Homo sapiens: one gene and its partner. Changing the gene in region 1 together with any one later gene gives a genetic interaction. Each region holds a gene or a part of one and is shown on either strand. Other genes may lie near its edges. The genes, in order: CWC22 and MED23.

Region 1 (3,827 bases):
TGTTCAAAATATTACATAGAACTAGAGCCTTATTTCAGGATTATTATGTAATCCCCTCTCACCTTTCTTATTTCCTGTTTGTTCAGATTGCCACTTAGGTTGACTTCTACTCCATTGACACTACTGAAATCATCCTTTCAGATTTCTCAGTGACCACCTGCCATATTCAGTTGTCTTTCTCAGGCTGCATGCCTCTTCACTTCTCTGCCTCACTTATGCAGTTGACTACCTACTCACTGTGGCTCCATACTTTCTTCTCACTTCCTCTCTCAGTCTTCTCCTCAGCCTGCCTCTTCAGTGTTCCTGGGTTCCACACACTGTCTCTGGACTATTCCATCCACTTCTCTTGGCTTCATATACTTACTTATTTGGTCCCTGTCTACTTGACCAGGCTCGTCTTCTCTCTCTTCAGCAAGCTGCACTCCAGCCATACCAACACTGCCAAGCTTGTTAAACATATCTGGCTCTTTCATGCTTCCTTACCTCAGTTTCCACTGCTGGCATTCTCCTGTCTTATTGATCTATCTGGGAAACTCTTAATCATTCTTCTTATATTGTACCTTTTTCTGTGAGAAAGTTTTTTCTGACTCCACTGAGTAGTTACTCAGTGTGGTGCTGAAAACCAAATGTCCAAAACCACCTTGTATTGTTAGTGTCTTTCTGGTTGTCTCACTCCATATATATTGTAATTATATGGTCTTCATCCTTGATTTCTCCCTTTTGTTGATGACTTCCACCTCTCCCCCAGTACTTGGCACAGTTCTATGTATGTGTGTGTACGTGTACATACACAACAGAGAAGGTTTTTAAAATTTTTTGTACATATATTCACTATATATACGTGTGTGTATATATATACACTATATATATTCACACGTGTATATATGTGTATATATTTATCTTTCTATATGTGTGTGTGTAAAAAAAGTTTTTTAAAAACCTCCTACATTGTATAATGATAGAAATCAAGTTTGGTACATTATTACTTGACCCTACTCATTTCATTTAGATAGCACGTAGCCTAACCTAATAAATGACATCAACTAGTTACTTGGTTGTATTTCATTTAGTAATTTAATATATGAAAAATCTGAAAAATGACTAAGGATTTTACCTTTTTATCTTTAAGCAATGTGTTCTCTTTTGTTTATTTTTTTCCTTTTTAGAACTCTGCAGCCATTCTTTGAAGGATTATTACCCCGAGATAATCCAAGAAACACTCGGTTTGCCATCAACTTCTTTACTTCTATAGGTCTTGGAGGTTTAACGTAAGGATTATTCTCAGAATTTATGTTCAGATTATAAAATTATCTCATAATTGTCTTTGAAATAGAATCTAACAGATTATATTTTAAATTAGGGATGAACTGCGGGAGCATCTCAAAAATACACCAAAGGTCATTGTGGCGCAGAAACCAGATGTTGAGCAAAATAAATCCTCCCCATCCTCTTCCTCTTCAGCGTCCTCCTCTTCAGAGTCTGACTCATCCGACTCTGATTCTGACAGCAGTGATAGCAGTTCAGAGTCTTCCAGTGAAGAGAGCGACTCTTCATCCATCAGTAGTCATAGCTCTGCCTCAGGTATTGAAGCTTATGTGTAATTTGGCTTGCTCTTTTCTAATAAATATGTTGCTGATATATATGAAGGAAGAAAATAATTTGATTGTTTATTTGTCTTAGAGATCAGTTGTTTAAAAGCCACAATTAATACAAATGGTCCCATCTATCATTCTTGCAGTCTGTAATACAACATTTATAATGCTGGGATTACCTTTTGACATCCTCATCATAGAAATGAAAATATTTCATTCGCAGATACTTATCTGAGTGATGACTGATATGAACCATCCATTCATAATGTTTGTAATCTAGTTTATAGGAGCTATCCTGATGTTTTTATTTTAAATAAATTTTAGTTTTTTACTTTTAATATTAAAGCTGTTTGTAATTGAGATATATCATACATTCATTGTGGATCTCAGATGCTATATGAATTTTTATAAAGGGAACACATCCTCATAGCTAGCACACAAATCAAGATATACCGGTACCCCAGAAGTTCTCTGTGTTTCCTCTCCCAGTTACTACTCCTTCCATCCTCATGGCAGCTACTATTCTGATTTGTAATTTCATAAATTAATTGTGCCTGTTTTTACCTTTAGCATTATGTATTATGGACTCCTTTTTATGTCTGGCTTATTTTTTTACCATTATGTTTGTGAGATTTAGATGCATTACTGCATTTAGTTATAGTTAATTCAGTAATATTGCTATGTAGTTTCCTACTATATGAATATACCACAATATATATTTATCATTTTTGCTCAACAGACTTTAGATTTTCAAGTGATATTTCCATGTATATTCTTGTACATATCTTTTGATGACCTTATTTATTTATTCACATTTCTACTGGGTATGTACCTATAGGTGGAGTCAGTGTGTCATAAGATGTGCATATATTTAGCTTTGGTGAATACTGTCAGTTTTCCAAGTGGTTATTCCTATTTACACTCCCACCGGCCATGTATAAGAGTTTCATTAGCTCCCATTCTCATTAATACTTCAAATTGACCGTCTTTTTCATTTCAGCCATTCTGGTGGATGTGTAATGGTACTGCATGGCGGTTTTAGTTTTAATTTGCATTTCAACTAGAGAAGTTAAATGCCATTTTATCCATTATTGGCCATTTGGATTTTTGTTGTCAAGTGGCTGTTCAAGTATTTTACCAATTTTTTTTAGTTAAGTTGTTTTCTCTGTTGATTTGTAGGTTTTCTTTACATATTCTAGATATGATATCTTTTGTACATATATGTATTGCAAATAACCAGTCCCATTCTTGTCTCTCTAGCCCTGCAAGGCTACCAGACCTCTGGTGTCTCTGTCCCTCAGTAGCATCCCTGAATCAGCAGATGCTCCCAGGGAGAAAGTAGCTGTAGAACATCACTTACTTCTCAATGTTTCTGCTTTCTCCTGCATCTTGGCCCCTCTAGTACTTGTTTTTCCACTAGCTCTCTGATGCCTTTATATTTTTTACTTTGTAACTGTAACCTTTTATTCTGAGCTAATTTTAGATTTAGGAAAGTTGCAAAAACAGTACAGAGAATTTCCATATACTCTTCATTCCAACTTCCCCTAATGGTAGCATCTTACATAACACTGGTTCATTTATCAAACTAGGAAATTAGCATTGGAACAGCATTATTGACTAGACTACAGATGTGATTTGAAAACCAGTTTTACCACTAATGTCGTTTTTCTTATTTCAGGATTCTGCTAGCATTTAATTGTATTCTCAGTTTTCTGCATTCTATGATAGTTCCTCTCGGGCTTTCCTTGTTCTTAATAGCTTTAACACTTTTGAAGTCCTCTGGTCACTTATTTTGTAACCTGTCCCTCAGTATGGAGTTTCGTCTGATGTTTTCTCCTTATTAGAATGAGATTAGACATTTTTGGCAAGAGTACATTAGAAACAATGTGTTGTTCTTAGTGCATCTTATCAAGAGGTTCATAATTTTATTTTGGGTGACAACCTTGATCACTTGAGTAAGGTGGTGTCCACTGGATGTCTTCAGGGAAACTATTTTTCTCTGTGAAAATGTCTTGTAGGGAGGTAACTTGATACTATGCAAATCTCTTTTTCCTCCAGCTTTTACTCACTAATTTTAACATCCATCTTTGGATGGTTAAAAAATCACCTAATGGTGATTTTTTATTTGTCTGTTTTCTTCTACATCTAGTAATTGAATTTCTTCTATAAGAAAGTATTGTCCCTCTTCCCTCATTTATTTATTTAGTCAACTGTAAATATCAATATAGACTCACG
Region 2 (4,338 bases), on another chromosome or scaffold:
TCTATTGTTTGTATAATACTAGTGTCACAATTTTATCCTCATTCTAGGATCAAAAAGCAATAAATTCCTCAAGGCAGCAAGAATACATTGACGCTATGCTAAGATTAACACTTGAAATAATCTCTAGCATGTTTTCTGGGTAATTTTAAGAATGAGTCTGCAGGGGCCGGGCACAGTGGCTCACGCCTGTAATCCCAGCACTTTGGGAGGCTGAGGCGGGGGATCACGAGGTCAGGAGATTGAGACCATCCTGGCTAACACAGTGAAACCCCGTCTCTACTAATACTAAAAATACAAAAAATTAGCCAGGCGTGGTGGCAGGCGCCTGTAGTCCCAGCTACAAGGGAGGCTGAGGCAGGAGAATGGCGTGAACCCGGGAGGTGGAGCTTGTAGTGAGCCCAGAGTATGCCACTGCACTCCAGCCTGGGTGACAGTACGAGACTCCGTCTCAAAAAAAAAAAAAAAGAAAAGAGTAAGTCTGCAAAAATTACTTTTACCATTATATAAATTTTTAGCTGGACTTGCATGGCCAGTAATGATTTAGTGATGGCAATTACATGAGCTACAAAGAAAATAAAGTTCTAGGAGGAATGTATTTAGAAATATGAATTTGAAATACAGTTGGTTAAATTCACTAGTTCTTTTTAAAAGAATCTGTAACTCTTAATTCCTAGGCCAATGTCAGTCACCAACTGTAGTGTAGGAACCACAGAGTACCCCATTTCCAACTGACCCCAGCCAGCACACCACCTGGCACACAGCCGACACTCATTCCAATGGAGTCGGGAAACAATCACACGGTTTATTCATTCAGCAGACTTTACTCATTAGTTTTCAAGTCTTTCGCAATGCCAATTCCCCCAAAATTAACAATGTCTCTCAAAATCCAAGAAATAAAATGTGTACTGTATTTACAAATATAAAATTTAAAAATTTTAAGATTATAAAAATTGAAGAATTACATCATCTGTCAGGTGAGAGTGTCAACCTGCAAAAGCAATTAACTTATTTTTAAAAAAAGAAATTGGAGAATCAACCATTTAAGCATGATTTTAAGTTCAAGAATTTTCAGATGTTATTTTCTTACATGGCTTCCAACTAATTTTATACAGTAAGTTCAAGTCCATAGCAAAGGTAATAAAACTGCCAGTTGACCTTGATAGAAACTATGGAAATTTATAATAAAATTTCAAGTCATTTTAAAAAGAATATGAAGCCTTGTTTGCTCCTACAATGCAACAAAATCTAGATTCCTTTTCTTGATATAAATCTCTATTATTCTGAAAATCTACCAAGAGATTTATGTATAAAATATTTGTAATAACTGTTTTACATGTGTGGTGCCTTTAAAATAATATATCTGAAGACTAAATATGTCATTAATAATAAAAAATACAAACAAAAACAACGGCTAGAATAGGAAAGACTGAAAGTGCCAATGACAAGTCATTTGATCACAGATACCTCTATGTTCCTACATAGCTCTAATAAGTTGTTATGAATATGAACAACATGTATCTTACTTGATCTCTTAGAGACAAAAATATAGATAGGGAGATGGGAGTTATAAGGTGTCAACAGATTCATCATTTGAATCAAAATAAAACAATCTGAATATCATCACTGCTTCTACTATATCACTACAGTGTGATCGCATTCAGATTTAAAAGGTTTGAGTCCACTCTCAAAGACGGATATATTTCTACTTTCTCCACAGTACAGTCTGGCTTCACTGAGTTACTGGTAAAGACACGGGCACCTGATTAGACTGAGGTGCTGGAGACCCACTGTTCATGGCTTGTGGAGGCACTGCAGCTGGCTCCATCTTGCTAATGTGTGTGATGAATCGAAGACGAAGTTTTAAAGCTGGTTTTAAGTTACAGATAATCTTCTCTACCTAAGAAATAAAAACACATTAAAACGTACTTTAATCAGAGAATTTCAACTTCTCACATTTAAAGCAGGATTTACACATATCCGGAGACAATAAACTAAGGAGTGTCGTGGGGTAGATGAGAAGTTTCTTAACATGTTCTGTGTTTTAAGAAAAGCAGATACAATGATTTCTTTCTTGCATGAGAAACAATACGTTCTCCCTCACACACACCCCTTATATATTATATGTGCATGTCTGTACATGTACCATATGTATATTCATATATATGCATATACTTACAAAGGCGTATCCACTCATCTAGCTAGCCAGTCATCCCACTACCAAAAGCTAGCAGAGTTTACACTGGAAATTTTATACATCCAACAAGTTGATCATTCTTTTAAAATGCCATCTTTACAGAAGCATGAAGCATAATTATAAAGTTCTTTGAATAACTCATGTTTGCAACATTTATCTATAAAACTATTTTGGTTTTGATTTACACTTGGAATTAACTAAATAATATTAGATCTACTCTTTTGAAAAACACTAAGGAGACAAACACATCAAGTCGTTTCACAGCTTTCTTAGCTTTACTCAAATGCTCTTTGACCTTTTCCTTTCTGTACTCCCTTGTGTTAAAGTTTCTTAGGCCTAAATGTAAAGAATACTTTTTTTAAAAAAACAAACAAATAAACAATTTCTTTTACAGTTTCTCTGCATGTTCTGTGTTGTAACAAAAGCAGATACAATTTCTCTCTTTCTTACATGAGAGAGAACAGGTCAACTCTCTTTGACACTGCTGCTGAGACATAAAGGAGTCAACCTCCTTGGCATCTCAACCTAAAGTACTGGGAGGGGTAGGAGGATGGACTTAACTTTCCCTATCTGTCCTACCTCCACTCCTTTAAAATGGCCCAGATTCTGTTTCCTACACGTAGGAAACTCAGTTATGATTCAAGGTCTTTTTCTACTTTCAGACATCCCCATTAGGAAGTTCCTCTTCATATGCTAAGTCAGGGTGGCCTCCCTTTAACTTTACCAGAATTCATACACCCTCTAAAGTGACACAGAACGAATCTAATACCTATTCCAAATGAAAACCCTCCAAAATGCTGAGGTCATAAATAATTCCCTAGGACTTTTTTCTTCAGGATAAGCATTCCCATATTCTCTAAATGCTTTTCATGAGTTAGTCTCTAGTCAGGATTAGTCTAGAATCCTGACTTTAGTCTTCTAGTTATGCCGCGGTTTGTCTACTGTCACCATGAGTGTCAGGAGAAGCAGGACCTCCTTTACTCATAACACAACAACCTCTCTGCTCATATTTCAGCAGCCATATCCCACTGTTTCTCCCTAATGAGATTACTATTAATTAACCCTCTAGGTCTTTTTCAGATTTTCTGTTGCAAATATCAAGGGGGAAAAGTACAAGAAATTATAACATGTATTTCCTTTAATACTACATCTAGAATAATATGCCTCTGATGCCTAAAAAGGTCTCATACCCACCCTTTTTCCTTAAAAGAAAAAATTAGACAAAATAAAAATAATCACCCAAACCAAAAAAGTCTATTACTATATGTTCAAGTTTTCTAAATTAAACATCATTAAAAATAATTAAACAAATTCAACTTACTTGCTCTTTCACGCTGTCACCAGTAAACATATACTTCATGTGATAGAGGAAGTCACAGATGGGATCCATGTAATTTAAATGGGTGCTACACTGGTCAACATTCAGCAGCATGTCATAAAACGCCACACCAATCTATTTAACAAATAATGTAAAATTATTTAAGTGATCAAGTGATTCAGTAATTCAGCATGATGCAGCTGGGCTCCATTACAACACTAGCACCGGGGGATACTGTCTTTGCTGTAGAACTGTCATATACCATATACACCTCTATGCACATGAGATATGATATGGCTTGCATTTATAAAAGAATCTATAGTGCTACAAAATGCCCCTGACAAGGCTTAAATAAAATTTCTCTTCATAGTTAAGTAATTTCTCTTAAAATCAAGAGATAAACAATCCCCTTTCTAGACACCATCTCTCGATGTCTGGGATAACTCCACTCCTAGGGATCCTTTGGATTATACTTTCTTAGTTCCATTTGGTAGCTCTTGCTTTAAGGTTCTACTCCTGGGTCCTTTCCTTGTTTGCGACATTTTGTTAGAAGTGACTGACTTCATCCATTCTCATGATTTTAATTAGCTCCTCTGCACTGTAAGATCTCAAATGTACTTCTCCATCCTTAACCTCTTCTCAACCTTCATGATGGGCGTTTCCTCTGCATCTCCAATTCAATACATCCCACCCTAAATTCATTACTGGCAAACTAAGTCCTCTAAAATTGCTCTTGGATCCTGTTAAACTAGTTTCACTACTAATGGTTGTGACCTGCAGTTTCAATAACACTGGTAAAGAAACTTAAATAGATACTTCAGAATTT

Evidence for each region.
Region 2: changes in CWC22 (region 1) and MED23 together harm fitness less than expected from each alone (positive genetic interaction), as found in Homo sapiens cells (one large-scale study listed by BioGRID).

The regions. Positions count from the first base shown.
Region 1 is NC_000002.12:179,948,266-179,952,092, reverse strand, and holds part of CWC22 (pre-mRNA-splicing factor CWC22 homolog), read left to right. Parts: intron 1-1,166; coding exon 1,167-1,268; intron 1,269-1,360; coding exon 1,361-1,581; intron 1,582-3,827. UniProt on the Homo sapiens protein: Required for pre-mRNA splicing as component of the spliceosome. As a component of the minor spliceosome, involved in the splicing of U12-type introns in pre-mRNAs. Promotes exon-junction complex (EJC) assembly.
Region 2 is NC_000006.12:131,585,950-131,590,287, forward strand, and holds the end of MED23 (mediator of RNA polymerase II transcription subunit 23), read right to left. Parts: intron 3,648-4,338; coding exon 3,516-3,647; intron 1,898-3,515; coding exon 1,730-1,897; 3' UTR 989-1,729; coding exon of another isoform or gene 971-988; 3' UTR 783-970; downstream 1-782. UniProt on the Homo sapiens protein: Required for transcriptional activation subsequent to the assembly of the pre-initiation complex. Component of the Mediator complex, a coactivator involved in the regulated transcription of nearly all RNA polymerase II-dependent genes.